Linked DNA regions of Homo sapiens. The protein of the gene in region 1 interacts with the protein of each later gene in a biochemical or structural test. Each region holds a gene or a part of one and is shown in the gene's direction. Other genes may lie near its edges.

Region 1 (15,284 bases):
GATTACATCAACTCAGGAAACTTTGCTTCTGTAAAGTTTTGATTGTTTTATTTTACTTTTGGTTCAAGTTTTCCCTCTTTCCCCTGAGAAAAACAAAACTTTAAGGTTGGGGCTCCTTTATCTGTACTATATAGCTTGCATTTATTCTCTTATCCATTTCATTGTCATTTTCCTCTGGAATTTGGTAGTTTCCTCAGGGTTATCTTTTATATCAATCCTTTATTTTCTATAGTGCCTTTTCTTCCCTGTCAGTCTCCAATATTGATTTTTAATTTGTATTTGCATTTAGAATTTTCTTACATTTTTGTTGTTCCTCTCCTTTTTGTATATCTACGTCCATCAGTTTTTTTAAAATTTTTATATTTTCTTTGTCAACTTTATAAAGTTATCTAGGAAATACCTTCTAAATTAAAAAAATTGGCATAAAGTTATTTCATCTATATGATCTTTTTTTAAATTTCTCAGAACAATATTATCACTTTAATAAGGTGTACTTCTAGTGCTCCCATTTTTGTTTTTAAATTGTTTATTTTATGATTCCTCAAATGGCCAGAGAGTTCTCCAGGTTCTTGGAGTGTGCGGTGAGAGGAACATTCTTAGCCTCCTCACTGCTGACTTCAGTTTAACTGTAACTTTCAGTGCCTTGCAGGCAACAGGGGTCTACAGGATTGTGGTTGGGTGTATACATCCTTTGGTAGGCTAGGTTATTTAAACTGGACACCCAGTTTGCAATGTTTTTGAAGAGCATACTTCATTTAAGTCTATACTCCTGCTCCAGTGTTCACTCCTTCCATAGCTCATCCTGGATCCACTTTAGCTCATAAAGCTTTCATCATGGGTGACTAAGCATTCTAGAGAGCAGTGTAGCTCTTCCTGGCCCTTATGTTCTCTGTCATGTCTATTCTGTGAGATATAGATCTAAGCGGATGAATAGAAAAAAAAAATAGAGGGACAATTGCAAGACCATTTTTAGCCAGCTCAGAAGATAAATGTCAAACAGTGGAAGGATGACCCCTGGTGTGTTTAGGTGAATGCCTCAAAGTTGGTCAAAGAAAATGTGGTGGGAGGAGGGCTCAAAGTTTTATCCTACCTCATTTGATGTTGTATGATCCCTGCTAGATTCCAGAGGTCAGATTATGTGATATACAGTCCAAGAATACAATCTCAGTCCTTCATTTTAAGGGTGCAATTGTTAGACTCCTGCTCAGATTTTGGCCAGTGTGGTTTTCTTATCTCTTTTATTTCTGACAATACTGTTGTTTTTTGGCTTCTATTCTCCATCCACTCTGTATTCATACTCTTTACCCTGTGGCCTTGCAGTTCCTTCCATCAGTGAGTGGAGTGTCTTTCCCTATCACTTGAATCTGGGCTGGCCTCATGATGGGCTTTGGCCAGCAGAATATGGTAGAACTGACAGTGTGCTAGTTCTGAGACCAGACCTCAGAAGCCTTGCATATTTCTCTCTCGCTCGCTCGCTCCAGCTACTGCTATGAAAACAAGACTGGAATAGCCTATTACAGGATGAGTGACCATATGGAACAGAGCCAAGTTGTCCCAGATGAAGTTGTCCTAGATGAGCCAGCTCCTAGGAAACCTGCCAACTGCCCACACAAAGGAGCCCAGCTGAGATCAGCTTAGTCTGGACTAGATCAGCAATTTATAGTGGATTTATAGACTCAGGAGAAATAGTACATGGTTGTTAACTAAGTTTTGGGATGGTTTGTTAGGCAGCAATAACTAACTGATGCATTACATTTAATCACAGGAGCTGTGTAAAGATCCTTGACATAAATGCAAATTACACTTCAGATATGTTGGAATGATTTACTTTCCTACCAGGAGAAATACAAGTCCTAAAATGAGGAAAAAGGTATCTCAATTTAATTTGCACTTAATTGGGTCATAGGGCTATTTAAGAATTTTTCATGCATTCATTGCAAATTTTAAATCATCCATCAAAGTTTTTTAGTAACTTTTGCCCACTTTACTTTTGTGTAATTTGGTTTAAAAATTTTTTGAGTAAAACTTAAAAAAATTTGCAATATCTCACTTTCCTCAAAACACTTTTAAACTTAGTCATATACATTACAGCCTGTTGAAATCTCCAAATGGACTTGAAAAGAACATTACTGATGGAATGAGCTAAGGAATACTGAAGGCTACCACGTATTAATCACAACGTTATAAACTTTACATTTGTTATCTCACTTGACTCTCAACAATTTTTTTTTTTTTTTTGAGATGGAGTCTTGTTCTGTCGCCCAGGCCGGAGTGCAGTGGCACGATCTCAGCTCACTGCAAGTTCTGCCTCCTGGGTTCACGCTATTCTCCTGCCTCAGCCTCCCCAGTAGCTGGGACTACAGGCGCCTGCCACCATGCCCAGCTAATTTTTTGTATTTTTTAGTAGAGACGGGGTTTCACCGTGTTAGCCAGGATGGTCTTGATCTCCTGACCTCGTGATCTGCCCGCCTCAGCCTCCCAAAGTGCTGGGATTACAGGTGTGAGCCACTGCGCCCAGCCAACAATTTTTAAGGTAAAAATATTCATAAGTAGTTTTATAGATGAGGAAATTGAATTTAAATAAATTGCAGAAGAGTACAAAGAAGTAAATAATTGATCGAAGTTTCAAACCCAGGTGATTTGCCTTGTGTCTGTACTCTTATTATCACCCTCTATTGCTGTTCCTAAATGAAGGCTTCACCTTTCTAAAGGCATTTGTTTCTAATTTCTTTCTTTTTTTTGGTCTGGCTGTGTTTTAATGCCTAAACACACTTTGATTAGGTTAGTGAGAAACTTTCTGGCATATGATAAATTGTTGATAAGCATTCATAGTTCATACTTGTGTGTCACTTTTCTTAGTCTCGTGCTTTTTAATAAGTATTTTGATGGAAAGGTGGGTGAGGGCAAATTAGCCAGCTGCCATCCTCATCTGACACTTGTTATCAACATCTCTCTCTTTTTTGAATTTTTAATTTTAATTTTTGATCAACATATATTAATAATCTAAAAGTATTACAAATAATAATTTGTAAAATTTATACACTGTATATTTTGCTTCACAATATGTTTTTCATTTATTTATGTTTAATTAAAAAAAAATAGAGACAAGGTCTCATGATGTTGCCCAGGCTGGACTTGAACTCCTGGGCTCAAGTGATCCTTCTACCTCAGCCTCTCAAGTAGCTAGAACTACAGGTACATGCCACCACACATGGCTTTTGCTATATATTTAAATGACAAATCTCGTTGTTTCCGTTCCTGGCTTTAAAAATCTTTAGGGTTCTCCATTACTTGCCAAATGAATTCTAACAGCTGGAGCAGGGCATGTTTGGCCTATCACGTATGTCTCAAACCTTTGCTTCCAGTCTTCTCTCTGACACCACTCTCTTTGCTCCAGTCAAATTGAACTCTTCACCAAGTACATTCCCAAGTACATTCTGTTCTTTCTGTCTTCTGCTTTTTCATGTATGCTTTTCTTTCTTCTTCGGATGTCTTTTGGTCACCCAACAAACTTCTGTTCTTCATTCAAAGCTCTATTAATAGAGGCGTTTCTAGCCTCCCTAGCCATATTAGAGTGGTTGCTCCTCTCACACTGATAACATGTCCCTCTCTCAGCACCTGTATCATATTGTACTTACATGTTTAACTTGACCACAAGTTTAGTGTGATTGATATTTACACTGCCTATCATAAAGTAAAAGCTCATTAATAAATTTTTTAATTAATAAAATAAAAAATACGTGCAATAAATAGAAAGCATAGCTGGTGAAAGAAGGTAGAAAAAAGAAACAACAGGCATACAGATTGGAAAGCAAGAATAAAACATCCTCTATTCACAGACAACATAATTATCTACATTGAAAATTCCAAGAAATCTATACAAAAGCTACTAGAATGAATAAATGAGTTCAGCAAGGTCACAGGATACGTAAAAAATACACACACACACACACACACACACTAATTATTTTTTTTCTATTCTACCAGTGAATGAGTTTTTATGTTTTTTTATTTTCCATATTTTGTGGTGCCTTGACATCTTAGGGACTTTGCAGGCTTGGAAGAAACTGCCCCTCCCAGGGCTAGCTAATTCCTAGAGATGGCAAACAACTTGTCTGAGAGCCCACCATTCATATGTAAACCAACCAATCCAGAGTCCATGCCCACAACCACCTCCTTTGTCCAACTCACATAGCAAACCAATTTCCCTTGCCCTAAGTCTCCCCAGGGACAAGTACAGGACAACTAGAGACTACCTCTGTAGCCCACAGCCACTGAAATTATTGGAACTATCAAATCCTAGACTTGCTCAAACTGGCCTGCCCTGCCTGGCCATTCCGTACCACAGCATACAAAATAGAGGCTCTGAGCCATGCTCTCCCAGGCTTCTGCCTCCTGATTGACCCAGGAGCTCCCCCTGTGGCCCTGCGCGGTATGCCATGCCTCCTGTTTCTAGGGTTCTGTGAGTATAAACTTCTCCCTTCATGAGAAGCATTTCCATGTCTGTATGTCTGCATGTGCATACTTAATTAAAACAAATCCCAGGTACACTTTAATACAAAGTGAAATTCAAAATTAAAATCAATACCTTTTACAATAGTACCAAAAAAATGAAACTCTTAGAATCTACATGGAAACTCTTAGAATCTGTGTAGAATTTGCATACTGAAAACTTCAACTACTGATGAAATAAATCAAAGGAAACCTAAACAAATGCAGAGAAATGCTAAGTTTGTGGGTTGAAAGGTATTCAGAAATTGGAAGATTGTTAAAATGTCAGTTCTTCTGATATTCATCTATAAATTTAACACAACTGCAATCAAAATCCCAGTGGGAATTTTTTTGTAGATATTGACAACCATTTCTAAATTCATATAAAAAGGCAAAGAAATGAAAATAGCCAAAATAATGTTTAAAAAGGACAGAATTGGAGGGTTCACACTACCTGATTTTAAGGCAGTATACATCTACAAAATAGTGTACTATTTGTAAAACAATAGAAAGACAGATCAGAGGCACAAAACAGAGAATATAGAAAGAGACCCCTACAAATCTAACCAAGCGATTATTGAAAAGTTGCGAAAGCGATTCAATCAAGAAAGGATCTTTTCAATAAGTGGTGCTAGAAGAATTGGACATCCCATGTGCAAAAACAAGCCAACAAATAAAAAAGTCACCATCCATAGCTCACACCTAAAAAATAATAAGAATTCAAAATGAACCAAATACTTAAGTGTAAAATGTAAAATCTTGAAACTTATCAGCAAAACACAACTCTTTGTAACCTTGGTTAGTCAAAAGAGTTCTTAGATATACCAAAAGCATGATCTCTGAAAGAAAAAGTTGATACATTGAACTCCATCAACTTTAAAGACATTTACTCTGTGACAGAAACTACTAAGAGAATGAAAAGACAAGCCACACATGGGGAGGAAATATTCAGAAAACTTATCTGACAAAGACATTGTATCTAGAATACAGAAAGAACTCTCAAAAATGAACAATATAAAAGCAAACAACCCACTTAAAAATGAGCAAAAATTTTGAGCACTTTACTACAAATGATAGACGGATGGAAGAGAAGCACAAAAGTAGATGCTCACCATCATTAGTCATTAGGAAAGTCCAAATGACAATCTTGTATTATTGGCTACAATTTGCTCCTGTGCAGAGACTATGTGAGATAGCTTCAACAGCTCGGTCTTTTTCCTCCCCTAGTTATAGTGCGTTCACTTCCGACATTATGTTGAAGGCCTATCCCCAAAGATAAAGCCCCGGATTGGTTCAAGTTATCGTTTTCTCAGCATTGTAGGGACCATTTGTGAATGGTGCTCTGTTTGCTAATCTTTATCTGCATGTGGCCTGAGATGAGCAGGTGAGCAGGCATGTCACCCCCTCCCTGGGTCCTCCTGGGCCTCGAGTTACAAAAGGTGGAAGATTCGGTTGCATGGGCATTATGATAATACAGGTGTTTGTATATGCATCTCAAAACCTTCAACATTCACTTTACGCCATTATATAAGGTTAGTATTAGGAGGGACGCACTGGGACTGTGACTTATTATTTATAACAGTATTTTGAGTACATTAGAAACTTAATAAATATGACTACTAGGATGGCTTTAAGATTCATGCCATGTCTTTTCCTTTCTCCACCAAATACTCTTCTCTTTAAGGTTAGGGCAGCTGACATCTGTAAACTCCAGATTCAAGGTCTTCTGCTTGAAACAAGACTTAAGGAAATTACAGAACTAACATAGCCTTTTTGCTTTCTTCTGTAAAATAGGATCATGCTACCCAGACTACAGGGGGACTGTTAGGAATAACAAACAAAACAGGCCAGGCATGGTGGTTCACGTCTGTAATCCTAGCACTTTGGGGGGCTGAGGCAGGAGGATTGCTTGAGCTCAGGAGTTCAAGACCAGCCTGGGCAACTTGGCAAAACCCCATCTCCACTAAAAATACAAAAAACAAATTAGCCAGGCATGGTGGCACACACCTGTACTCCCAGGTACTCGGGAGGCTGAGGGGGGAGAGTTGCTTGAGCCTGGGAGGCGGAGGTTGCAGTGAATGGAGATTGCACCACTATACTCCACCCTGGGCATTGGAGTGAGACCCCTCACAAAAAATAAAAATAATAAAAATAAAAGGGGACAATACACAGGAGTCTGTATATGCTGCCATTGCACCTGACATGTAGAAGCTGCTCTACAAGGCTTCTTTATCTACTCAGGATGTGAAACTTTGTGTACTGCTATTTTAATATCTTTTGTCTTCAGTATAAAAAAAGCAACTCCTCAGGGGAGGATAAAGCACACCACAAGGATTGCTACATCAATAACCTCTATGAGAGATGTGGACTTGTCAAGTCATCTCCATGATGGATAGAACAGAGAGCAAACATCTCTGAGCCAAGTTGATGCTGATTCACTGAAAATAATGAGGTGAACATCCTGGCAATTAGTTGAGGTAAAAAAATTATCCTTTATTGTGGTTTGGTGACATTGTGCTAATTTAGAAACCATGGATGCTGGTTTATGTGAAAGTTTTTGTTTTCTTTCAAGTCTCTGGTTGGAAACATCACATGGTTGGTTGCTGTTGCTGTTTACTGCCACAGCCTGTTCAAGTCTATTCTCGGAGAGTTTTCTTCATATAGGAGTTGGTACTAATCCAAGTGTAAAATCCGGAGAAATGTGTGCACAGCTTTCTGTGTGGATTCTTAGCTAAGGTTTGAAAATGGTCTGCTTTGAGCTCATCTGACCAGAAGATCTGACTGCTGTCAGGCAAAGAAAAGGGTCTGTCAGGAAAGGACTGGGCACCCCAAGTGGAATACGGAAAGAGAAGGGCTGTGCCTCCTTGCAGAAAAGAGCACAGCTGGTGAAGCTGCCTTCACATCGTCCAAAGTTTCCAGTTCTGGAAAGTTCCAGTTGTAAGAGTGAAATCAATGCCAAGAGGCAGGTCAGTGGAATGAGAGGCACTGAGAAACTAGCCACTGTGGGTGGAAGGGGAAGGAGATTTGGTTTTGACAAGTCCGTACTCAGGTCTTCAGTAAGGAGTTCTGAAGTCAGGGTGAAGCCTTTGTTTATTCTAGAGGAGGCGGAGTTTGGGGTCTGGGAAAGAAGATAACTTCTCAGAAAGTGAAAAAAAGCTCATGTAGAGGATGCTGGGCAAAATAATGGGAAGGAATAAATCAGCATTGTAGAGAATGTGGTTGGATCATAAAATCCCAGGCTATAGAGATTATGTGCTCAAAGCCTCTGCATTTTATGTGAACACACACAAACCAAATGTCGACCAGATGCACAAAAATGTGCATACATGGAGCAGCCAACCACCAATAGTAACCAGCATTTCACTTCTCTTTGCATCTCAGTTGGCTGTACCTGGAAGGGTCTAGACTTTGCCTCCTTCTCGTTCTAGCATTCTGACACTGTGTGCAGTGTAATAGAAAACGCGGTTTGGGAGCTAGGTTTGCCCAACAATAGATATTCTGGGGTGATTTTCATCCTTTGCATTTGTCATTACGATGTTTTGTGTGCTTGTGCAAATACAGGACGGTTCCTGAAATGTGTCTCTGAGCGTTCTTAACTGTGTGTAAGGTAAGCGAGGAAAGTGTCTAAGACAGAGGCCAAGAACACCTGTCACAGGGTACCCGCCTAGAGTGTCTGTACCGCATCCTTTCTGCTACACTGTTTGCACACACACAAAAGGGCCGAGGAGCCAGGGTTGGTGTTGGATATGCCCAGTACGCGTGCTGGGTGTTGGAAGGATGGGGCCGGCGGTAACAAGAATCGATATATATTTACCGCGGGGGCGGGGGTGGGGGTGCGCGGAGGCTGCAGGGCGGGGCAGCGCTAATGAGAGCAAGCCCGGCTTGTGGTTGGTTCTGGAGTCTGGTACCCACAGAGGAGCAGGCAGGGAGGGAGGGGATGCAAGCGGGAGGATAAAGCGATGAAGTGTGCTGCGTTACCGCGCATCAGGCGCTGTTGTTGGAGCCGGAACACCGTGCGACTCTGACCGAACCGGCCCCCTCCTCGCGCACACACTCGCCGAGCCGCGCGCGCCCCTCCGCCGTGACAGTGGCCGTGGCCTCCGCTCTCTCGGGGCACCCGGCAGCCAGAGCGCAGCGAGAGCGGGCGGTCGCCAGGGTCCCCTCCCCAGCCAGTCCCAGGCGCCCGGTGCACTATGCGGGGCACGTGCGCCCCCCAGCTCTAATCTGCGCGCTGACAGGAGCATGATCTGTGCCCAGGCCAGGGCTGCCAAGGTAAGCGGGCGTAGCGCGGGGACACTGTCTGCCGCCCCTTCCCCCCCGCCCTTCTCTGGGCGGCTTCCCCGCCGCACGCGAGGCCCCGGCAGCGCCCTCCCTTCTCGGGGCCGAGATCCACCCTCCTCCCCACCCTCTCGCTTCTCCCGCGAGGTTCAATTGTCAGCCTGGGTCGCGCCGCCGCCCGGTCCGGGCCGGCATCCCCGGGTGGCGACCCCGGCTTGGGTACTGCAGGCGCACCCGGCCCTCCTGCGGGGTACGGAGAGAAACAAAGAAGCCCCCAAGCGGGTTCGCAGCGCCTCCCCCGCCCCTCAGCGCCCTCCCAGTGGCGAGGAGGTGTCAGGGGAGGGGGCGGAGAGACCTACGTAATCCCCCTTCCCAGCCCACACCCACCCCTTGTGAACCAAAGCTCTGGATTTGCGCTTCGCCTTGGGCTCGCTTTTGAACAATTGTGTCCCATGCAATGCCCGTGGTTAGCCCAGAGAGCGCCCAGAGCCTCCGCACGGGCTCGCCGGTGCTCGCTCGAGGGGCGCGTGGCCAGGTCCGGCCCTTGCTCCCATGGACGGGTGCAGGAGGGGAGGAGGCGCTGTGTGGGTGCTCCCCCAGCGCCTCCCTGTTACCGGCCGGCTGCGCCGCTCAGCCGGGCCTGCCACCTGAGTTTTAGCGGGAGCAGTCATGTCGCCTACCGTATTGCGACTTGCAGACAGGCAGGGAGGGAGCTGCCGGGGCGGGGAGGGGGGGGGAATGCGTCCGGTCCATTTTTGGCTGGAGGTGCGCTTCCTGCTACCCCCACGTTCCCGGGCGGTGACAATGCAGCAAAATCCGAGGGCTCAAACAATGTGGCCCCTCCATCCCCGGCTCCAGGGCATTCTGATTGCTCTGCCGCTTTGACGTCCCGGCCACTTGGCTGATTTTCAGAGCCATGATGCGCGGTGTCTCTGTCTTGCACACAGAGGCTGGGCACCATAACTTCTTCCCTGCCGAATTTCAGCGCGTAGGGGGAGCTGGCAGGGACACAGGCTGCAGAGATGCCCGGCTTCCTGTGGTTCCGGGCACAGCGCGCCTCAGTCTGCATTGGGCTGACACCAGAGAGCATGTGGGGATTTTCCTAGTTGCCGAAGAAGATATTATTTGACGTTGCTGTAGTTTTGTGCTTACTTCTCTTGGAATCTGCAGTGGTGCAATTCTCCCCTTGTTTTCCCCCCTTCTCTTTGAAAAGATATCAATGCTATGTTCAGCAGAAACGGATACAGCAAGAGCAGCATAGTTCAAAAATTGAGGGAGGCATCTTCTCTCTTTTCCTGGGATTTAAACGCGATTTAGGAGGGCAGATGCCCTACCCGAAAAGGCCAACCGTTAAAGACCCCGGCAGTGTTGTGGTCCAAGGCGTCTCAAAGCAGGTGGCCAGATCTGCGTTTCTCATCAGCAGACTCACTCCGGCTGTGGCTATTACGGTAATTCATTCTAGATTGGGGATTCATTTAAAAATGTGTGTTTTCCACTAAGAAGGGATTAGAGTCCACATGCCCACCCTGGTATGAATGTGTGTGCCTGTTTGGTAGAGAGATAGATTGTGGTAGAATTCCCTGTTGGTAGAATTCCCTGTTGCCTGTTCCCTCCGCTTGCTGCTTCCTCTGGAATGTGGCATTGGAAAAACAAAGCACTATTTTAATTCCTAGACCTCCAGGCAAATTGGCCGTTCTAGTGTTTTATTTAATAATCCACGTTCTGACTAATTCCACACTATAATCCCAGTCTAGTGCAGTTGGCTGCTTTGTGGAATGACAGTTCTCTTTTTTTTTGGAGTAGTTTTTTCATGAAGGCAAATTGCCTAAGTTTGTTTAGATTGTGACATTATTGACTTGATAGGGAGGTCACATCCGGAGCTGGAACAGCCCATCAATGTATCAATACAGAGGGACTGCAGCTCTGTTATTTGTGTATATAGCATCATTTGACTTGATTCCTTTTACACTCTGGCTTTTAAAGATGGATGTATTACAAGATCACTTTGAGCTTTACCTTCTATTATGCTTCCATCTGATATGATTGTTAACAAAAGAAATATTAAAAGGCCAGATGTGATATGGAAAGACAAGCCTGAGTCTCATTCCTCATGGTAAAGGAAGTTGGACTGGCTGGTTTCTATCGTTCTTTCTAGTTCCAGCATTCTGTGGTAACTGACAGAGGAGTAAGAAAAGTTACCCAGTGTTGGAAAGGCAAATAATTATAACGTGAACCATGCAAGCAAACCAAGGATTGACTGTAGAATCTGCGGCTTATTTTTATACCTTGCAGCTTTTAAAACCCAAGCGTCTGCATTTTCCCCATAAGTGAAATTACTCACCAACTCAAACAGGTCTTTTTTTTTTTTTTTTGTCCACTATAGCAAAACATTTGGTGGAGGGTTGGGGAAAAGAGAAGAAGATTGAATTAATTGGATAACAGGTGTTCTCCTTTTGTGGAGTTATTCATTCCAACCCCATCTTAGATAATTGAGAATTCACTTTTTCCAATCATTGGTTTTTGTTTGTTTCTAATGAGACACTCTAGATAGCTGTTTCATCCTATGCAGTAATTGACAATGGCATGAGACTTACTTTCTCTGATGTAATTTGGTGTTGCTCTCAAAACTTGCTAGCGCTGTTGCTTGTCACAAAAATGGGTGAAGCAATGATTGGTCTAAATAGGCAGGCAGGCAGTGTTTTCATGCGCTATGGTAATTTTTATAATTTAGGTATAGTCAAGGTATTTGTTGATTCATGCTTAGCCACACAATTTTCCGTAGTTGTGCACTCATTTGTTTTAAGTTACAATCAAAATAATATCCTGAAATTACAGTCCCTGCAAGGCATAATTAACCACTTCTTCTCCTGTTTTCCCATAGCCTTTTTGTTCATAGAGCTAAGATAGCACTTACAATATTGCAGTTATCTGAGTTGTAAATGTGCCACAGTCTCCTTATCTTAAATATGGGATGAGCTTCTTCAGAACAAGGACATGTTTATATTCATCTCTCCAGCACCTAGCAGTTTGCCTGGTACATCATGTGTTCTCAGAAATGTTTATTGAGTGGATTTCAGGTCATAAAAATGCCCTCTAATTGTATAGGCAGGAGGTAGGTAGGAATCCTTCACTTTGTGAGTCAGCTGGGGGAATCAGAGAGGTTATGTAAGATGCTTAAGGGGGAACCGAGAGCCAGGACTCAAATCCAGGCCTTCCACCACCCACCCTCAGTAAACAAAAAAACACGTAGAGAATGAGTTCAAATGCTGTAGGTTTTGGTTATTTATTTTTTTCCTTGAATGATCTGGATTATCCATTTTGACAAAATTTATCTGATAACTGCTCTGTTCTGTCTTGCTCTGGCCTTAGAAGGAAACATGGCCCAAGCACTTTAACCTCTAATCCACACTTAAACAGAAGACGTGAGCACCCTTCTGCCCACTTTCTCTCTAAGTCCTGGTTCTATCAACCAGAGCTTGCTAGGATGATGGACACGTCTAGGGAATGTCTACTCATTATTTGCTCAAGCAACATTGAACCACTGTAAGTGCTTCTGAAATGACCTACAGTTAGACCAGAGACAACCATCCTTCCTGGGCCAGCCAAGCTTGACTGAGTCTCCCAATGGCAGGTTTCTAGACTAACAGGTGTGACTTACAGACATCAAGACACCTGCTTCTCTCCCATTTACCTGCTTCCTTTTCCATCCTAAAAAACAGGACAAGCTACATTAGGAAACCAGGAAGTTGCAATACCCACATGTCCTCTCTGTAAAACAGCCGTTGGCACATTTGATGTTCACGGACTTTTAGAGAAAACAGTATGAAATGCTCTGTGGGGTTTTCTTCAGGTCACTTTTCCTCTTTGAGGGTTAGTTTCTTCTTCTTTAAGAGTAGAAAGTTGAATCAAGTAATCCCAAAGGTCACTTCTAACATCACCATTCTGTGATTATTTTTGTTGGTTTATTCAGTTGAGCAAGTTGAAAGGAGAAAAAGATTAGAAATAATTTAATTTGGCAATATGTAGAGAAGAAATAATTAAGGCTACATGGTGCAGCCTGTGGTTATCTGATAACTACTTTGAGCCTTCTGTTAAAACTATTCTTTATACATTTCTATAATCCTTTCTTATTTGTAAAACTAAATTTACTATATTAAGGGGAAAGATTTGTGGCATTTCTTGTTCCCAGTGAGGAATGCAGTGGTGGAAAAAGTATGCAATCTCCAAAATGTACAAAGTGTTTAGAATTTGGGGGTTTAATAGCCAAGGTTCCAAGCATTTTTATTCTCACCACTGAGTATGTTTCACAGCTGAATAACTCTTATGGTCAAAGTGTTCCCTGCAATTCATCCAACAAATTCCCCTTTCAGTTTCTCTCTGGTTCCTCATTTTGCTCTTTTTTTCCACTTCTTTAGCTCCACTCAACTTCCTATAACATCCCCCACATACATAAGCCATATGCCAGTAGTACACTGCCACCCCCCACCCGCCCCACCAAAGGCAGGAGTCAGAGCTTCACAACCTCCTTACTCAGCTCAATCTTTTCTACTTTCTGAGGTTTATTCATTACCATTGCTTTTCCAAGTTAAGACACAATGAGATATAGAAGCAGGTCGAATCTTTTAACGATATTGTTTATCGTTTACGTCTTTTTCTCACAGACTTTCTGACCACCATTTGGAACCTCAATGCCATGCATTTAGGTGTCTTAAAGCCTCTTTAAATATTTTAGGAAGCAAAGCAGCATATTAGCAATTTTATGTATCCCATCCCACAGTGTTTGGATGTGTGGGTATTGGTAAGTAGTTGTACTGTTCTGTGACATGGGCACTGAAAGGAGAATGATAATAATGCAATTACTTACTGGCAACATATGACAAAGATCACTAAGCTCCTAGGTCATCTGGATTCCCATAGCAACAAGTGGTATACACTGTTTGCATTATTTGTTCAGAACTGATACTTTTCCTGATTTATTGGTCTGAAGCTTGATGCATATGGAGGCCTGAAAAATAAGGATGTGGCATACAGACAGGCTCTCCTGGTGTTATCAGGCATCTATGCATGTGATATGCAGGGAGAATTTGGTGGATGGAACTTAAGCCGGTACCAGGGGGGCGGGGGAAGAGTTGGGAAAGGACGCCATCTGTGCCCATGATGACAAATGCCATCATGGAGACTTCATTCGGGGTCCCTTTTATATATTTAGTGAAGCAGATTTTCCATTTCACACTTTCTAGATATATTTGTATTGCACAGATGTCAGGGAAATATCATGTGTGTGAAAGAAAAAAAAAAGATCAAAATTCACATCCATGGCCAGGGATTGTAATTCAATCATTTTGTCCTGAAATTGACATCCATTTAACGTGCATGGATGTTCCCTGCTTTTGCTTTTGCTTTGGGGGTTCAAGTCAGAGCAGTTGGAGAAACATAAATCTCAGCCCTACACATTGTTAAAATTCAGAGATCTAGGTTAAGGGGGGAAAAGATGGGGAGAATAAAATTAAACATATAAGACCTTGCCATCAGTGCCGTCAGTACCAGAGCTGATGAAATCAATCAGCAAGTGATTCCTCATCCTCTTTCCTGTAACACACAGATGAGCTGAAGAAACCACAGGACGCAGTCAGTAAGTTTTTATCCTCAAAAGGACTTCTTTTTTTCTTTACCGTTATTCATAATTCCTTGTGCCATCAAAACTTAAAACTACTTAATGACGTTTTCCCTCTATTTTGAATATAAATTATTTTTGTAGAAATGAGCTTTTTGAAATTGGAAAAAAAAATCGTTTTGAGGATTGTTGCCAGCTTTATTTCCCCCTGCCTACCCCCAGCATTGTCCTTGGTGTCCCCTCTACATGACCGGGCATAGGACCTGCATATAAAGAGGATGATGATAAGGAAATAATTGGCATACAAATGGTACTGTGATGTATGACATTTATAAAACCGCTCCCTGACTCCACATCCCCCATGATGGATTTTCTGTTTCTTTTTAAAGAATATGCTTCAAAAAGGTTGTCCCACTGGCCTTCTTCACTCCCTCCATCTCAGCCTCTAAAGACATATTTTATTGTGACATATTTGATTTTGACAAACAGCACATTGAACATATATGAAATATATGAAGCAAAATATGACACACACCCACCATGCAGCCTGAGACCAGAAGATCACCATCTTATTTGAAGCTACTTTTGTGTTTCTGCCACCTCTCACCTTTTGCCTGTCTTGAGAGCACCTCGATCAGGTATCAGTCACTCGTTCCTGTCACTCCCCTCCCTGTTGTCATTAGGGTCACCAATGATCTCTACCTGGTGAAGTACAAGGGCACAGCTTTGCTGATCTGAGCAGCATTTCCCATGGGGCTGTGGGGGACCACTCTTTTCTTAAGCACCTGGCTTCTTCCAGGACACCAGATTCTCCTGGTGTTCCCGCAGCCTCTCTGGCTCTTCTCTCTCAGGCTCTTTGGATGGCCCCTGAGTTTTTATCCCGATTGATCTCAACTGAATT
Region 2 (15,085 bases), on another chromosome or scaffold:
GTCCCCCAGGCTGGAGTGCGGTGGTGCGATCTGGGCTCACTGCAAGCTCTGCCTTCTGGGTTCAGGCCATTCTCCTGCCTCAGCCTCCCGAGTAGCTGGGACTACAGGCGCCCGCTACCACGCCCGGCTAATTTTTTGTATATTTTAGTAGAGACGGGGTTTCACCATGTTAGCCAGGACGGTCTCCATCTCCTGACCTCGTGATGTACCTGCCTCGGCCTCCCAAAGTGCTGGGATTACAGGCGTGAGCCACCGTGCCCGGCCAAAAGTATTGGTAAAGTAATATAAGGAGTGTCTTAAAAACTGTCAGCATACATTTTTGTTTGCATTTATTGATTTATAAGGGGTCAAAACTTGGCATAAGCATTGTAAAACTCTAAACCCAGCTGAAGGCCAGGCATGGGGACTCACACCTGTAATCCCAGAACTTTGGGAGGCCGAGGCAGGTAGATCACCTGAGATCAGGAATTGGAGACCAGCCTGGCCAACATGGCAAAACCCCGTCTCTACTGAAAAATACAAAAATTAGCCAGGTGTGGTAGCACATGCCTGTAATCCCAGCTACTTGGGAAGCTGAGGCCGGAGAATCACTTGGACCTGGGAGGGGGAGGTTGCAGTGAGCCGAGATTGCACCATCGCACTCCAGCCTGGGCGACAGAGTGAGACTCCATCTAAAAAAAAAAAAATTATAGGAAAACGTTCTTTCTACAAAAATTCTTATTATAAGGTAAATAATTTTGTCTAATTCAAAGCTTATTTAAAGTTTATGTATAAAATGAGTTAAAAAGAACAAGGAAATAAGAGAGACCAAGGAAAGTTATAGATATAAAGAGGTCTTTTTGTTAAGTAAGGTTAAAAAAAATAATTTTATATGAGAAAGAATCTTGTATGGTAAATTTTTGTCCTTAAATAAATGACTGGTTGTTTAAAAAAAGGGATGTTCAGCACAAACTAGAAAGTCCACATGTCGTGAACGGTCTGTGTAAGCTGCAATACCTTTGGTAAAAAAGGAATTTATAAAAATGTTACATGATAGATCGGGTGTGGTGGCTCATGCCTGCAATCCCAACACTTTGGGAGGCCAAGGAGGGCGGATCACTTGAGGTCAGGAGTTCAAGACCAGCCTGGCCAACATGGTGAAACCCTGTCTCTACAAAAATATAAAAATTAGCCAGGCATGGTGGTGCATGCCTGTAGTTCCAGCTGCTCAGGAGGCTGGGGCAGGAGACTCAATGGAACCTGGGAGGCGGAGGTTGCAGTGAGCCGAGATCATGCCACTGTACTCCAGCCTGGGCGACAGAGTGAGACTCCAACTTTAAAAAAAAAAATTGTTTTAAGAGGTAATGAATGCTGGTCCATGTCCATTCCTATCTGGCCTACAAAATTTAATGGGCTGTAAATCTTTTAACTGTAAGTCCCTGGGTCATAGGGAGTCAAACTGAGGGACAGGATTGACTGAGGGTGGGCAGCCACACTCGCCCAGCAACGCTGAGACACAATAAAGATTTGGTGGACATGGATGTTGCCTCTGGCAAATCTTGGCCAGAAGGGGGTGAATGTAAACCAAAAATTAAATTCTAAGGCCCCCCCAGCCGTCCAAATGGACCCTTCCTCTCAGCCAAGGGCGTTCCAGTGTTAACCTGGGAACTTGTTCAGGCCATGGCGGGAAGGGGTCGTGGGTCATGCCTCCTCCCTTTTGAAATTCAGGAAAAGCTGACTAGCATTAACATCAACACAGGCCTTAAGTCTGATAGGAAACATTAACAATCTATTCTCTCTGAAGCCGGCAACCCGAGGCTTCAGCTGCGTGGAAAACCACAACCCCTTACTGCAACCCAGACATTCCTTTCTATTGATAATAACTCTTTCAACCACTGTCGGTCAGGATCATTTTGAATCTGCCTATAACATAGAGGTCTCCCCACACCACCCCAATTTATCCTGCTCTTTCAGATTGAACCCGTGTAAATAAATCATGTCTCCCTAAAATGTATAAAAGCGAGCTGTGCCACATGCACCTTGGGCACCTCCCGAGATGTCATGGGTGTGTCCTTAACCTTGGCAAAACAAACTTTCTAAAGGGACTGAGACCTTCCTCAGTTTGCACCCTCCAGGCTGGGTTCTCTGTCCCTCAAGCATCCCCTGGCCAGACAATCCCTGCTGTTCAGAGGCAGCCAAGGCTTTCTGGTCCAACCCTGGGGGCTGGAGGAGGTGGGGGCAGGAGGTGGTAACTGGGTTGGGGGATGTTTTCTTGGTTGCCAAAGCAGAGGGTGCCCCCCGCTGCTCAAGATGCTGAGGGTGGTCCCTGTTGTCCTATTCCTGAAGCTGCCAGAGGAAGTCCCTCCGGAGGGCTGGCCCACAGCAGAAGGGCTGCTCCTGCCCTCAGAGGGCAATCTCAGGGTTGAGAAGGTTACAGCCACCATCTGCCACCAACCTAGCTGCTTGTGCCGATCCCACTGGCCAAGGCCATCGGCTCTATGGCTAGAGGCCTGGGCAGCCTGTGTCCTGCTTACCAGAAGGCCACAGATGCGGGTGGGTGGGGTGGTGGGGTCTTGGCAAGACGTGCTGGCCACACCTGTCCGGGGCACCTTCTCCCTGGGGTGTGACTCAGCCATGCTCCTGAGCAGGGGCCTCTGAGTTGAGCCTCGCTGCAGTCTTCCCAGCTGCAGGGCCCCCACAGGTGTGCTGTCATCGCACACTACTGAGGGACAGACAAGGCAGAGCGGGCCTCCATCTGCCGCGGGCCACAGCCGTGAGTGTGCATGCGAGTGGATGTGCTGGTGCCTGTATCTGCGGCCGGTGTGGCTTCCCTCACATAACTTTCCATGCTGTGAAAACAGTTTGGCCTGCCCTGCATGGGAACGGCAGAGGCCTGAGAGGAGGCAGAGGAAGGAGGCTGGATGCTGAGATGTTCTCCGAAGGTGGAGCCGGTGACGGCAGTAATGGAGGCAGGCTGGATTCCCACGGGCTGAGGCTGCGTGGACACTCCTCCTGGCTTCTGCCCCACGGCCTGCAGCAACGTCTCAGACCCACCAAGGTGTCCCAGAGGGCCAGAGTCAGGGCTGAGCATGGACACAGCCTGCCCTCTGCCCGTAGCCACAGCGGGACTGACCCTCAATATTCAGCCACCTTGCTGACCTGTGGTTGTTCCTGAGAGGCAGTCAGGGTTGGGGCAAAGGAGAGGGCCACAGGCAGCCAGGTGGCGAGGTCCACCTCCTGATCCCCCACCAGGGGACCACCCTCAGCTCCCCGCTGTCCTCAGCGGCCTCTCAGGGAGGCGGTGGGCTGCGCGCCTGCCCCCAGCGTCCCACCCCAGCGCCCCGCCACCTACCGCTCTCTCCCAATGTGTCTGGGGTCAGAGAGAGGTGGAGAGGACGCAGCGCCCCGCGCTTTCTGCAGTCTGTCCAAGGGGAGGTCAGGGGCATCCCGGGGCTGGGCAGGCACCTGCAGGGGAGGGTGCTGCGGCGCGGACGTGGGTTGCAAAGAGATGCCACGCGTGTCACTCTCGGGTCCCTGAACGAGAGAGCTCTGAGCTCCCTGGAGCCCAACCCTCCACTGAGCCTCCAGGGGCCCGGGACGCTCCATGCCCGGGCCGCGCCGCGCCTCCCCTAAGGGCCGGGTGGGGCGTGGGAGCGGAGGACAAGGCGGGAGCCGGGAGGCGGGAGGGTCGGGGTTCTTTCTCCACCGGGGTCGCCCTCAGCCGGGCCTGCCGCCCTGGGCCGTGGCACATGGGGAGGGAAGCGCGCGGCTTCGGGGTCTGGGGCTCTCGCGCCCACTAACGGTGCCCGGAGCCGCCCGCCAGTGCGCAAGCGCCGCCCCGCCCCCCGCCCCATCCCCCACCCCGGGGTCGACGGCGACAGAGAGTCGTGGGCGCGGTCCGCCAGTCTGCCTAGAGCGGCCAGCCCTCCCCCTCCCTCCTCACCGCCCCGGACCGCGCACCGGAAGCAGAAGCTAGGCTGGTTCCGCCCCGCGAGCGGCCATCTTGGAGGCTGAGGCGGCGGCGGCGGCGCTGCGGCGGGTTCGGTGGGCCCAATCCCGGGGCGGTGCGGCTGTTTCGGGCGCGGGCCCCGCTTTTCCGCACCCTGCTCCGGCCTCGACTACGGCGAGCCTGAGCGCGGCGGCGGCCCACGCGCAGCGACAGGGAGAGGTGAGCGCGCTCGCAGGCCTGCGCCGGGTCCTCGGGCCCGCTCGTCCCCCCTGCCGGAGCCGGCCACAGCGGCGGCCCGGGGCTGCTGGGGACCCTGCGCGACGCTTCTCCGTTCGCGCCCGCCGCCCGCGGGGCCCCGGCCCGAGCCTGCCTGCGCGGAACCCGAGGTCGGTTACGGCGGGCTCCCGGAGCTCCGGGTCAGGGTCATGTCGGGGACTTGACCACTCGGCCGGGTTTCCCGTCAGCTGGGACACTTGCAGCTGCCCCAGGACGGGCAGCCTCGATCCTGGTTCGTCAGTGGATCACGGGAGTCTGTGTCGGGGGAGGGCTGCCGTCGAGCCCGCCGTCGCCTCGCCCCTGAACTGTTAGACTCCAGACTGCCCCGTAAACCCCGAGAGAAACGAGCGTGCCCGGGACTGTGCTTAGGGCCAGCGTTTCTGGGAAACCCGGGCGGTGACAGTGGGAGACCACCGCCGGCCGGCGAGTGAGACACGAGCCCGGAACAAGTCTCTAAGCGGCGCCGGGCCTCGCCATCCACACCTGCCAGTTCCCTGCATCCTTTCAGCCCCTGGCCAGGTGTCACCTCCTGGCGTCCTTTTCAGTGCCTGCCACTTAGTGCGTGTGTATTTAACTCTAGTCCGGTTGCCATCCTCTTGCCAGACCCAGATAGGAAGCGGCTGAAAGGTCGGGCCTCAGCCCGGTGGGAGGTGGGCAGCGAAGAGTGTACAGCGGGCTTGGCTGGGGCAGGTCGGTGGCCCCGCGCCCTGCTCCAGGGGAACCAGACTGTGTAATCTGGCTTCCGAAGAAAGGATCGTGAGTATCTCGCTTAGTCTAGCACCTGAGCCTAGGGCGTGGTTGGGTCTGGGTGCCCGGAACTTGCAGTCCGTCATCTGCACGGCCTGGCACCGCTGACCTCCTTAGCAGTTCCACTCTCGGCAGGGATGTGCGTGAGTGACAGGCAGGTGAGCCAGGCAGGTAGGTGAGTGCTTGAGTGACAGGCAGGTGAGCCAGGCAGGTAGGTGCGTGGATGAGTGACAGGCAGGTGACCCAGGCAGGTGCATGTGTGAGTCGCAGGTGAGTGTCCCATTTCCATCGGCCCGGGCTTCCGTCCAGCCTCCGGAGCAGTCTGGTGGAGAAGGCAGAGACTTCCCTGGCAGTCCTGGACCTGGGTGTGCCATGCGCCTGGCCGATGGGTCAGGCCAAGGTTTCCTGCCACATCCCCTAAGCAGGAAAGAGCTGTCCAGACAAAGAGGGACGGGTGAGGGACGCTGGGCAGCCACTGCCTCAGCACCTGGGCACAGCTGCCCTCGGTGATTCACGCTGCTTTAATGCAGTTTCTGTGTGTGAACATTTTTTTTTCCTGTGCCTTTTTGTTTTAAAATCGCCAACTCTTTCTCTCAGCAGGATGATATGCTTGGTGTCCTTTGTCTGTGGGGATGTTTGAAGGGAACCCGAGGCACATATGCTTCAAACTCTGTTCTCACAGTTTGCTTCCTTTGTGGAATTTTTTTTTTTTGATACAGGGTCTCTGTTGGCCCAGCTAGAGTGCAGTGACATGATCTCAGTTCACTACAGCCTCCGGCTCCCGAGTTCAAGTAATTCTCCCACCTCAGCCTCCAGAGTAGCTGGGATTGCAGGTGCCCACCACCACACCCGGCTAATTTTTTTTTTTTTTTTTTTTTTTTTTTTTTGAGACGGAGTTTCGCTCTTGTTGCCCAGGCTGGAGTGCAATGGCTTGATCTTGGCCCACCACAGCCTCCACCTCCTGGATTCAAGTGATTCTCCTGCCTCAGTCACCCGAGTAGCTGGGATTACAGGCACATGCCACCATGCCTGATTAATTTTGTATTTTTAGTAGAGACGGGGTTTTACCATGTTGGTCAGGCTGGTCTCGAACCCCCGATCTCAGGTAATCTGCCTGCCTGGGCCTCCCAAAGTGTTGGGATTACAGGTGTGAGCCACCACGCCCAGCCCCTTTGTGAATTTTTGTTTTCCTTGTCCTTCCTGCTGTCATATTGGGATGAGAAGAATTGGGGGAAATAGCCCCCTGGCCTCCTGGGGGACGTGAGAATGCTGTTCTGTGTGAAGCTCAGGAAGAGTGGCTGGGGAAACAGCAGTTGAATCGTGAACATGATTTTAAAAGCCTCTCCAAGCAGGTATGGGAGAGAAGCTTGTTTGTGACTCATTGGATGGAATCTATTTTATTTTTGCGCGGCTGTCCATGAACTTTCGTTAAACCTGCGGCCTGGCCACTTAGCTAAGCCCAGACCCACCTGCACTTGAATTGTCCAGTGAATTATTTTGTATATGGCAGAGTGTTAGCTTCAGGGTGAGTGTCGAAAGGACAGCCTGTGTGGCGGTGCTGCTTGGGGTCATCACTGTGGCCATCACCAGGTGTTGGCCTGAGGGGAGATCCCTGGCCCATTGGCTTCTTTAGCCAGGAGCTGGGGATGCCACTGTGTGGAAGCACTTCCTTCCCAGGCAGGACTGTAACCCCATCCCTGGTGGGGGCCCTCCTGGGGAGGCACTCCTTAGGCAGAGGAACCCGCTGGGGCCCAGAAGGGCCCTGCGTTGTGTGTGGGGTCACATGGAGGCCAGTGATGTGTGACAGAGTGGGAGGCATTTGGCAGGGAAATCAGGGAGGCCTCTGAAGGCGGTGGCTCTGGCTATGCCGGGAAGGGCCTGGGGAGTTTCCAGTACAGGCTAGGCTGGGAAGCAGCTGTGAGAAGGAGTGTGTCGGTCAGGACTTTGGAGTGGGACCTGGGCCGTGCTGGGTCTTGGGAGTTGGGAACGAGGAGGGCTGGCTGGGGCTGCTCTGTCTTGGGAGCTGGGAATGAGGAGGGCTGGCTGGGGCTGCCTCTGTCAAGGGGCTGGCAGGCAAGAGGACGTGTTGATGTTTATTTGCTTGGCTGTGGAGTATCCTGAAGGGTGGATGGGGGAGTGGGTGATCGGAACAGTATGTTGACTTATGGGTACAGGAGGGCCTTGAAATGGGAAGAGACTAGAAGCTCAGACCTTCTGGACCCACGGGGGGAGTTGGGAGGCTCCTGTGGTGTTGATGGGAGAAGTGATGACATTTTGCGTTAGAGAAGATAATGAGAGTGGGAAGGCTGTGGTGAACAAGGATTGCAAGAGTCAGGGACCCCAGAACAAGAAGCAGGGTTGGGGGTGGTGCTGAGGCCACACATTTGGGAGCACGCGTTGGGTGCCCTGGCTGAGCTCTGCACTCCAGGCCCTGGGTGTGTGGGGTGAGCAGCCAAGCCCTGGCCATTGACATCCTCAGGTTGGGAGCAGACACTAAACAGGCTGCTGGTGGTGGTTCTCTGAGGAGGAATAAACCGGTTAGAGAGGCCAAGTCTGTAGATCTCTTGCAGGTGGAGACTGAAAGGAGGTGGAATGTGTGGCTGTCTACAGGTGTATGAGTTGGTTCTCATGCTGCTATAAAGATGTACCCGAGACTCAGTAATTTATAAAGAAAAGGGGTTTAATGGACTCACAGTTCCGTGTGGCCAGGGAGGCCTCAGGAAACTTACAATCATGGCGGAAGGGGAAGAGGCATGTCTCACATGGCAGCAGGCTAGAGAGAGCGGGCAAGAGCAGGGAACACTGCCTTATAAACCATCAGATCTCCTGAGAACTCGCTTTCACTGGAACGGCTTGGGGAAACTGCTCCCATGATCCAGTCACCTCCCACAAGGTCCCTCCCTCAACATGGGGGATTATGGGGATTACAAGTCAATATAAGATTTGGGTGGGGACATAGCCAAAGCATATCAGCAAGGAAACTGGGTAGAGTAGACTTCCGGTTTGTGGGAACTGGGAGGTCAGGATGGAGATCACTGGTCACTGTCCGTTATCGATGGCCACTGATGTCCACAGACGTTATTAAATCGTGTGGCCATGGCTGGGCGCGGGGACTCACGCCTGTAATCCCAGCACTTTGGGAGGCCGAGGTGGGCAGATTACCTGAGGTCAGGAGTTCGAGACCAGCCTGACCAACATGGTGAAACCCCGTCTCTACTAAAAATACAAAAAAAATTTGCTTGGCATGGTGGCAGGCACCTGTAATCCCAGCTACTTGAGTGGCTGAGGCAGGAGAATCACTTGAACCCAGGAGGCAGAGGTTGCAGTGAGCGGAGATCACACCACTGCACTCCAACCTGGGCAACGAACAGTGAGATTCTATCTCAAAAAAAAAAAAAAAATAAGGTTTGAGTTGGAGCTAGTCTGATGCAGCAGGGAGCCCTGTTTTCATCACCACCCCTCTCCCCAGTCTCAGGTGTGGCTGAGGGGCCTTGGGGTCCCTGATCCAGCCTCCTCTCTTGCATGATGATCACCACCCCTCTCCCCAGTCTCGGGTGTGGCTGAGGGGCTTTGGGGTCCCTGATCCAGCCTCCTCTCTTGCATGATGATCACCACCCCTCTCCCCAGTCTCGGGTGTGGCTGAGGGGCCTTGGGGTCCCTGATCCAGCCTCCTCTCTTGCATGATGATCACCACCCCTCTCCCCAGTCTCGGGTGTGGCTGAGGGGCCTTGGGGTCCCTGATCCAGCCTCCTCTCTTGCATGGTGCCTCGCGCCCCATGCTCGGCCTTCAGTGCTGTCTTGAACGTCCCAATGGAGCCACCAGAGTGACTTTCCTAACAGAAGATATGATCTGCCTTGAGGCTTGGACCCCAAACCCCTGTGGGGCCCGGGTTACCGTGGCTCCTGCCTGTGATTCCAGCACTTCCGGAGGCTGAGGCCTGAGAATCAGTTGAGGCCAGGAGTTTGAGACCACCTTGGGCAACATAGTGAGATCCCAGCTCTACAAAAAAAAAAAAATTAGCTAGGCGTGGTGGCATGCGTCTGTAGTCTCAGCTACTCAGGAGGCTGAGGTGGGAGGATTGCTTGAGCCGAGGTGGTCAAGGCCACAGTGACTCCAGCCTGGGCGACAGAGCAAGACCCTGTCTCACGAAAAATAAGTAAATAAACTCTTATGCCCTGGCCCTGCCTCCCTGGCCAGTCTTATCCCTGCCCTCACTGTGCTTGGGCCCTTGCACACTGCACTTTCTCAGGTGTGGCCTGTTCACCTGTGGCCCCTTCTACCAGGAAGACAGCTGCTCTGCCCAGTGAGTGCCTTGGAGTCTCCAGAGTCCTCGTCCCTCCAGCCGCAGAGGCTCCCCCGTTCTGCGGCTCGTTTTGCTTGTGGCTAGTGGTAAATGCTGGGCAGCGGGCTTCCGGGTGCGGTGAAGGGGCCGGCGGTGGTGCCTGCCCACTTCTATGGTGTGGATTCTCCATCAGTGCGGGGTCCTTGAGCTGAGTTGGAAGGTGCGAGTAGCTGCCCTCAGGAGCTGGTCTGAGGCTGTGGCCCGAATACCCCCTCAAGCCCTGTAAATGTATCCCTGCGTGAGTTTTTGGAGGACAGGAACGAGGCTTTGGGTTTCTCCTCGTCTTTGTACCTGAGCTGTACGTCGTGTCAATGAAGGTGGTGGCGGGACAGACGGGAAGAGAGAAGCCGCAGGGCCTCTGGGTGTCTGGGCGGGTGGCAAGCGAGGGTGACCTGTGAGCTGTGACTCTGGGTGACCGGGCCCTGAATGAATGGCGGGCTGCAGAGGCGGGAGTGGGGCTGCGCCAGGGGAGAGAGCTGTGGCCGGCGCTGCTTCTCGTCGTCAGTGTAGACGTTGCTTTTAACAGATGAGCAGCACCAGCAGTAAGAGGGCTCCGACCACGGCAACCCAGAGGCTGAAGCAGGACTACCTTCGCATTAAGAAAGACCCGGTGCCTTACATCTGTGCCGAGCCCCTCCCTTCGAATATTCTCGAGTGGTAAGGCTCCGCGCCACTGATCGCCCTGCGCTGACTGTCGCTGCCACGCAGGCCTCTGCCGGCCCCTGCTGGGCGAGCCTGGTGCCCCAGTCATGGCATTGGCAAGGTGCTCCTGCACCCTCCCCCGGGGTGAGTGGGGTGCCCAGGGGCCTGTGGACACTCTCTGGTCTTTTCCCAATGGACGCATGCCGGGGACATCACAGAGCCATGCTTGACTCAGGCTGGGGCTGGAGAGAATCTCCGGTGTGGGGCCCTTGAGGGGGGCGGGGTCCAGGTTGACTCAGGTTGGGGCTGGAGAGAGTCTCTGGTGTGGGGTCCTTAGGGGAGGGGTCCAGGTATGCAGGGTTCACAGCTGTTGCTGGTGTGCACTCTAGGCACTTAGAGGAGAAACTGCCTTTCTAGACTCTGCTCTTTGCTTCTGGATATGGGAATTAGCCTGTTTTGGCTTGGAGTATTTGACAGGACTAGGGTCCGACACTCCTGTCCCTGGCACTGGCTTGGGCCAGGTGCCCCGACCCTCAGGCTGACAACGAGAGGACCTGTGCCTCATAAGCATTCACCTCATGGTGACTCTCCCCCTTGCTGAAGTATAGAGTGTGAGAGTGCATACTGCTCTGTCGAAACACTGCCATTACAGGTCTGCTAGTAATTTGGTAAGAAATAAAGTGTGAGAGGCCGGGCATGGTGGCTCACACCTGTAATCCCAGCACTTTGGGAGGCTCAGGCGGGCGGATCACCTGAGGTCAGGAGTTCGAGACCAGCCTGGTCAACATGGTGAAACCCTGTCTCTACTAAAAATACAAATATTAGCTGGGCATGATGGCGCACACCTGTAGTCCCAGCTACTCGGGAAGCCGAGGCAGGAGAATCGCTTGAACCCGGGAGGCGGAGCTTGCAGTGAGCTGAGATCACACCACTGCACTCCAACCTGGGCAACAAGAGCGAAACTCTGTCTCAAAATAAAATAAAATAAAATAAAATGTAAGGATGTTTTATATTTTGATCTTTTAAAAAAAAATTACTTATTATTATTTTTTGAGACAGTCTTGCACTGTCACCCAGACTGGAGTGCAGTGGCACAATCTCGGCTCACTGCAAGCTCTGCCTGCCGGGTTCATGCCATTCTCTGGCCTCAGTTTCCCAAGTAGCTGGGACTACAGGCGCCTGCCACCATGCCCGGCTAATTTTTTGTTTTTGTATTTTTAGTAGAGACGGGGTTTCACCGTGTTAGCCAGGATGGTCTTGATCTCCTGACCTCGTGATCCGCCCGCCTTGGCCTCCCAGAATGCTGGGATTACAGGCGTGAGCCACCACGCCCGGCCTTATTTATTTTTTTGAGACAGAGTCTTGCTCTGTCGCCCAGGCTGGAGTGCAATGGCGTGATCTCGGCTCACTGTGACCTCCGCCTCCCTGGTTCAAGCAATTCTCCTGCCTTAGAGATGGGGTTTCACCATATTGGTCAGGCTGGTCTCGAACTCCTTATCTCAGGTGATCTGCCTGCCTCAGCCTCCCAAAGTGCTGGGATTACAGGCTTGAGCCACCATGCCTGGCCTAATTTTTTTTAATTCCAGAGAAAAGATATTTCAGTGAGTTGAAAGGAAATGTGTTTCGGCTTGGTCAGGGGTCCACCTTCTCTGGCTCACAGAGGAGGCCCAGCCCAGGCAGGCGGAGGATACCCAGGGTGAGGCGGAGCCCCTTGGCCACCAGAGTGCTCTCTGCCCCCAGTGTTGAAAATCACATGTGGCCCCAGGACATCGCTGGCAGGTGAGAGGGACAAGTTCCACGGTAGCCGCCTCCTCGCTGGTTGCGAGGACGTCTTCATTGTGTGGGGAAATCCCTCCCCACAAATCTGTGGGTCAGGCGTCCCCAAGTCCCGGTGCAGGTTCGATGATTCACAAAGAATACTCACCATTAAAATTACGGAGAGAAGTCCAGGCACAGTGGCTCATGCCTGTAATCCCAGCACTTTGGGAGGCCGAGGTGGGTGGATCACAAGGTCAGGAGATTGAGACCAGCCTGGCCAACATGGTGGAACCCTGTCTCTACTGAAAATACAGAAATTAGCCCGGTATGGTGGCGCACGCCTGTAATCTCAGCTACTTGCTACTTGGGAGGGTGAGGCAGGAGAATCGCTTGAACCCGGGAAGCGGAGGTTGCAGTGAGCTGAGATCGCACCACTGTACTCCAGCCTGGCGACAGAGTGAGACTCCACCACACACACACACACACACACACACACACACACACACACACACACAATGGAGAGAAAACACACACACACACACACACACACACACGAGAGAAAACTGCAGTCAGCCAGCGGAAGAGGCATGTGGGGCAAAGTCTCTGTGCTCCATTCCCAGCAGCAGGCTTGGGTTTGGACGGCATGTGTGGAATGTTGAGCAGAGAAACTCATTGGAAACTAAAACATTAGGGGAAGGCCCAGGGACTTTATGGGGCTGGTCCTAGGCACCCTCTGCCTGGCACCTGCCAAAATACCAAAATACCAGACTTCCAGGAGAGCAGGGGCTCAGCGTAGCCCATGTTGCCTGTACTGTTGAGGCATTAAGGACAGCAGCGTCAGTGCGAGAGCCCCTGGCAGGTCCTCGGCAGGTGTCTCTCCCTTCCCCGAGAGAAGACTGCTTTCCCAGAAAAGGCCTGTGGGGTGCGCTATGGGCCACGTGGATCCCATCTTCTCTCAGCCGCCCCAAGGCTGCTGGGCTCTGTCTCAGGAAGAGGATGACTTCTTCATTTCTTCCCAGTTTTCGCAGGTTGGGCACAGTAACAACGTAAGGCCACATTCCTGGGTGCATCGCGTGCTGAGCTCAGAGCCACTGGGTTCCTGGGTCAATGACACATGATAATGGCATTTTTTGAGTAAAACATACCAGCTGGCTCTGCTGATACATCATCCCATTAGTATACATTACTATACGTCATCCCATTAGTAGTTTCTTTTGAGTACTATTTCTGTCACTCAGGCTGGAGTGCAGCGGTGTGACCTCGGCTCACTGCAACCTCCGTCTTCCAGGTTCAAGCGATTCTCCTGGCTCAGCCTCCTGAGTAGCTGGGATTACAGGTGTGTGCCACCATGGCTGGCTAATTTTTGTATTTTTAATAGAGACAGGGTTTCACCGTGTTGCCCAGGCTGGTGTTGAACTCCTGACCTCAGGCAATCCACCTGCCTCAGCCTCCCAAAGTGCTGGGATTACAGGTGTGAGCCACCGCACCTGGCCTAATTTTTGTATTTTTAGTAGAGACGGAGTTTCGCCATGTTGACCAGGCTGGTCTCGAATTCCTGACTTCAGGTGATCTACCCACCTTGGCCTCCCAGAGTGCTGGGATCACGGGCATGAGCCACCGAGCCCAGCCCCCATTAGTTTTAAAGTGATGGCACACATGTCCTGGGGCAGAGCAAGGGGAAAGATGATGGCCGGTGTTGGCCGGTGTTGGCAGTTGAAGCCATGTCTGGTTTCTGGCATTTCTAGCTGGTTTTACTTTCTTCTCTGTGCTCTTCTGTTTCGTTTGGGAATCTGTAAAGCCCAGACACTTCTTTACGTAAAGCAGAAGCCTTATTTATTTGTGTGGAGGAGTGTTTAGTCGATTTGCTGCTGCCCCTGGTCTGAGGGTGAGCTCTGTGTGGGGACTGTGGCTTTGGACACAATCACGGCAGTTCCTGTTCCTTCTGCTCCAGGACAGCTGCTCAAGTCACTTATGGTTTTTCCAGGAGCACGAGAAAGGGCTGGGGGTACCGAGCCGGCCCCGCATCACTAGCTGTGTTCTGTTTAGCCTGCATGTGTGATATCAAAAAACACATTATATATAAGTACATTTAAGAATATACATTTCAAAGTACATCGTTTTTTCTTTGGAGATAGGGTCTCACTCTGTTGCCCAAATGGGATGTGGTGGCACAATCATAGCTCACTGCAGCCTTAAACTCCTGGGCTCAAGTGATCCTCCCGCCTCAGCCTCCTGAGTAGGCGGGCTGCAGGCATGCACTACCACACCCGGCTAACTTTTTTTTTTTAAATAAAGGTGGGGTCTTGCTATGTTGCCTAGGCTGGTGTCAAGCTCCTGGGCTCAAGCGATCTTCCACCGTGCCCTCCCAAAGTGCTGGGATTACAGTCTTCAAGTACATCTTAGTAATGTACTGTGAAATTAAAATTTATTTAAGATTTCAGTTATTATTAAGATGAGCTTCGTGCATGTTATATTGTCGAAACAAAGGTACTTTATGGTAAACTTATAAAGTATAGTCTCTAAGATCCTGTTACAAGAGACTAAAAGCACCCACGGTAGAAGAGACGGGGGTTTTGAAGCCGTGTGGCTGTGTGACATTTCACCTTCATTTGTTCACTGCCTGAATGTGAATGTAATTTTGGCTGGGTTCTATAAACCCCAGGCTTGGAATGATTCAGATTTTGGAGAATTTGCTGTCCTCAAATCCCAAGTAATTTTCTTCTCTCCCTTAGGCACTATGTCGTCCGAGGCCCAGAGATGACCCCTTATGAAGGTAAGGATTCTGTGCTTAGGAGAAGAACACCAGGCGGTTTTTATATTCTCAGTCAGCCTTGCCTGTTCAACATCTTTTATTTGCAAACAGCAGCCTTTCTACTTTGGATGTGTGCTAGTTAAATTGGCTTAGTTGGAACTCCTCCTCGTCTGCTTCTCCACACGCTGGAAGTGTTTGCTCTGCTGATGTGTCTCAGCCTGCAGGGCCGCCTGTAGCGTCTGTGTTCACCAGCCTCTGACACCATAGGGCCATAGCTGAGAAAACCAGACCGGGGTAAACACTGAAGCTGGCCTGTTCTACTATTTCTTAAGACCCAGTGCATATCATCAAAGGAAAGGCACATATATTCAGTTATTCAGTGTGCCTTCTGTGCTGGGCGCCCCCAGGGTTTCGCAATCCCCAGGACGGTCTCTGAGCTAAGTGGAAGTACCCCTGTGTGGTGGCACCTGGGGCTTCGGTAGGCTGCAGGACCTGTCCAGCACCTCAGCCCTTCATCGACTACCAAGGCTGATCCAGCAGCCTGACCCCTCCAGGTCAGCAGACACCACCTAGAGACCTAGTGTCATTTATAGAGAAGATGCTGGAGCTGTCAGTAAGTTTCTGGGGCCTTTGGCGGAG

Evidence for each region.
Region 2: the proteins of HECW1 (region 1) and UBE2J2 form a complex in vitro, tested with the Homo sapiens proteins (one study listed by BioGRID).

Annotation. Positions count from the first base shown.
Region 1 is NC_000007.14:43,104,175-43,119,458, forward strand, and holds the start of HECW1 (E3 ubiquitin-protein ligase HECW1), read left to right. Parts: upstream 1-8,472; 5' UTR 8,473-8,733; coding exon of another isoform or gene 8,734-8,763; intron 8,764-9,829; exon of another isoform or gene 9,830-9,982; 5' UTR 9,983-10,094; coding exon of another isoform or gene 10,095-10,217; intron 10,218-13,721; exon of another isoform or gene 13,722-14,401; intron 14,402-14,772; exon of another isoform or gene 14,773-15,021; intron 15,022-15,284. UniProt on the Homo sapiens protein: E3 ubiquitin-protein ligase that mediates ubiquitination and subsequent degradation of DVL1. Also targets the mutant SOD1 protein involved in familial amyotrophic lateral sclerosis (FALS).
Region 2 is NC_000001.11:1,262,728-1,277,812, reverse strand, and holds the start of UBE2J2 (ubiquitin-conjugating enzyme E2 J2), read left to right. Parts: upstream 1-3,958; 5' UTR 3,959-4,147; exon of another isoform or gene 4,148-4,960; intron 4,961-9,820; coding exon 9,821-9,951; exon of another isoform or gene 9,952-10,043; coding exon of another isoform or gene 10,044-10,080; intron 10,081-11,522; coding exon of another isoform or gene 11,523-11,715; intron 11,716-12,222; exon of another isoform or gene 12,223-12,982; coding exon of another isoform or gene 12,983-13,030; intron 13,031-14,426; coding exon 14,427-14,467; intron 14,468-15,085. UniProt on the Homo sapiens protein: Catalyzes the covalent attachment of ubiquitin to other proteins. Seems to function in the selective degradation of misfolded membrane proteins from the endoplasmic reticulum (ERAD).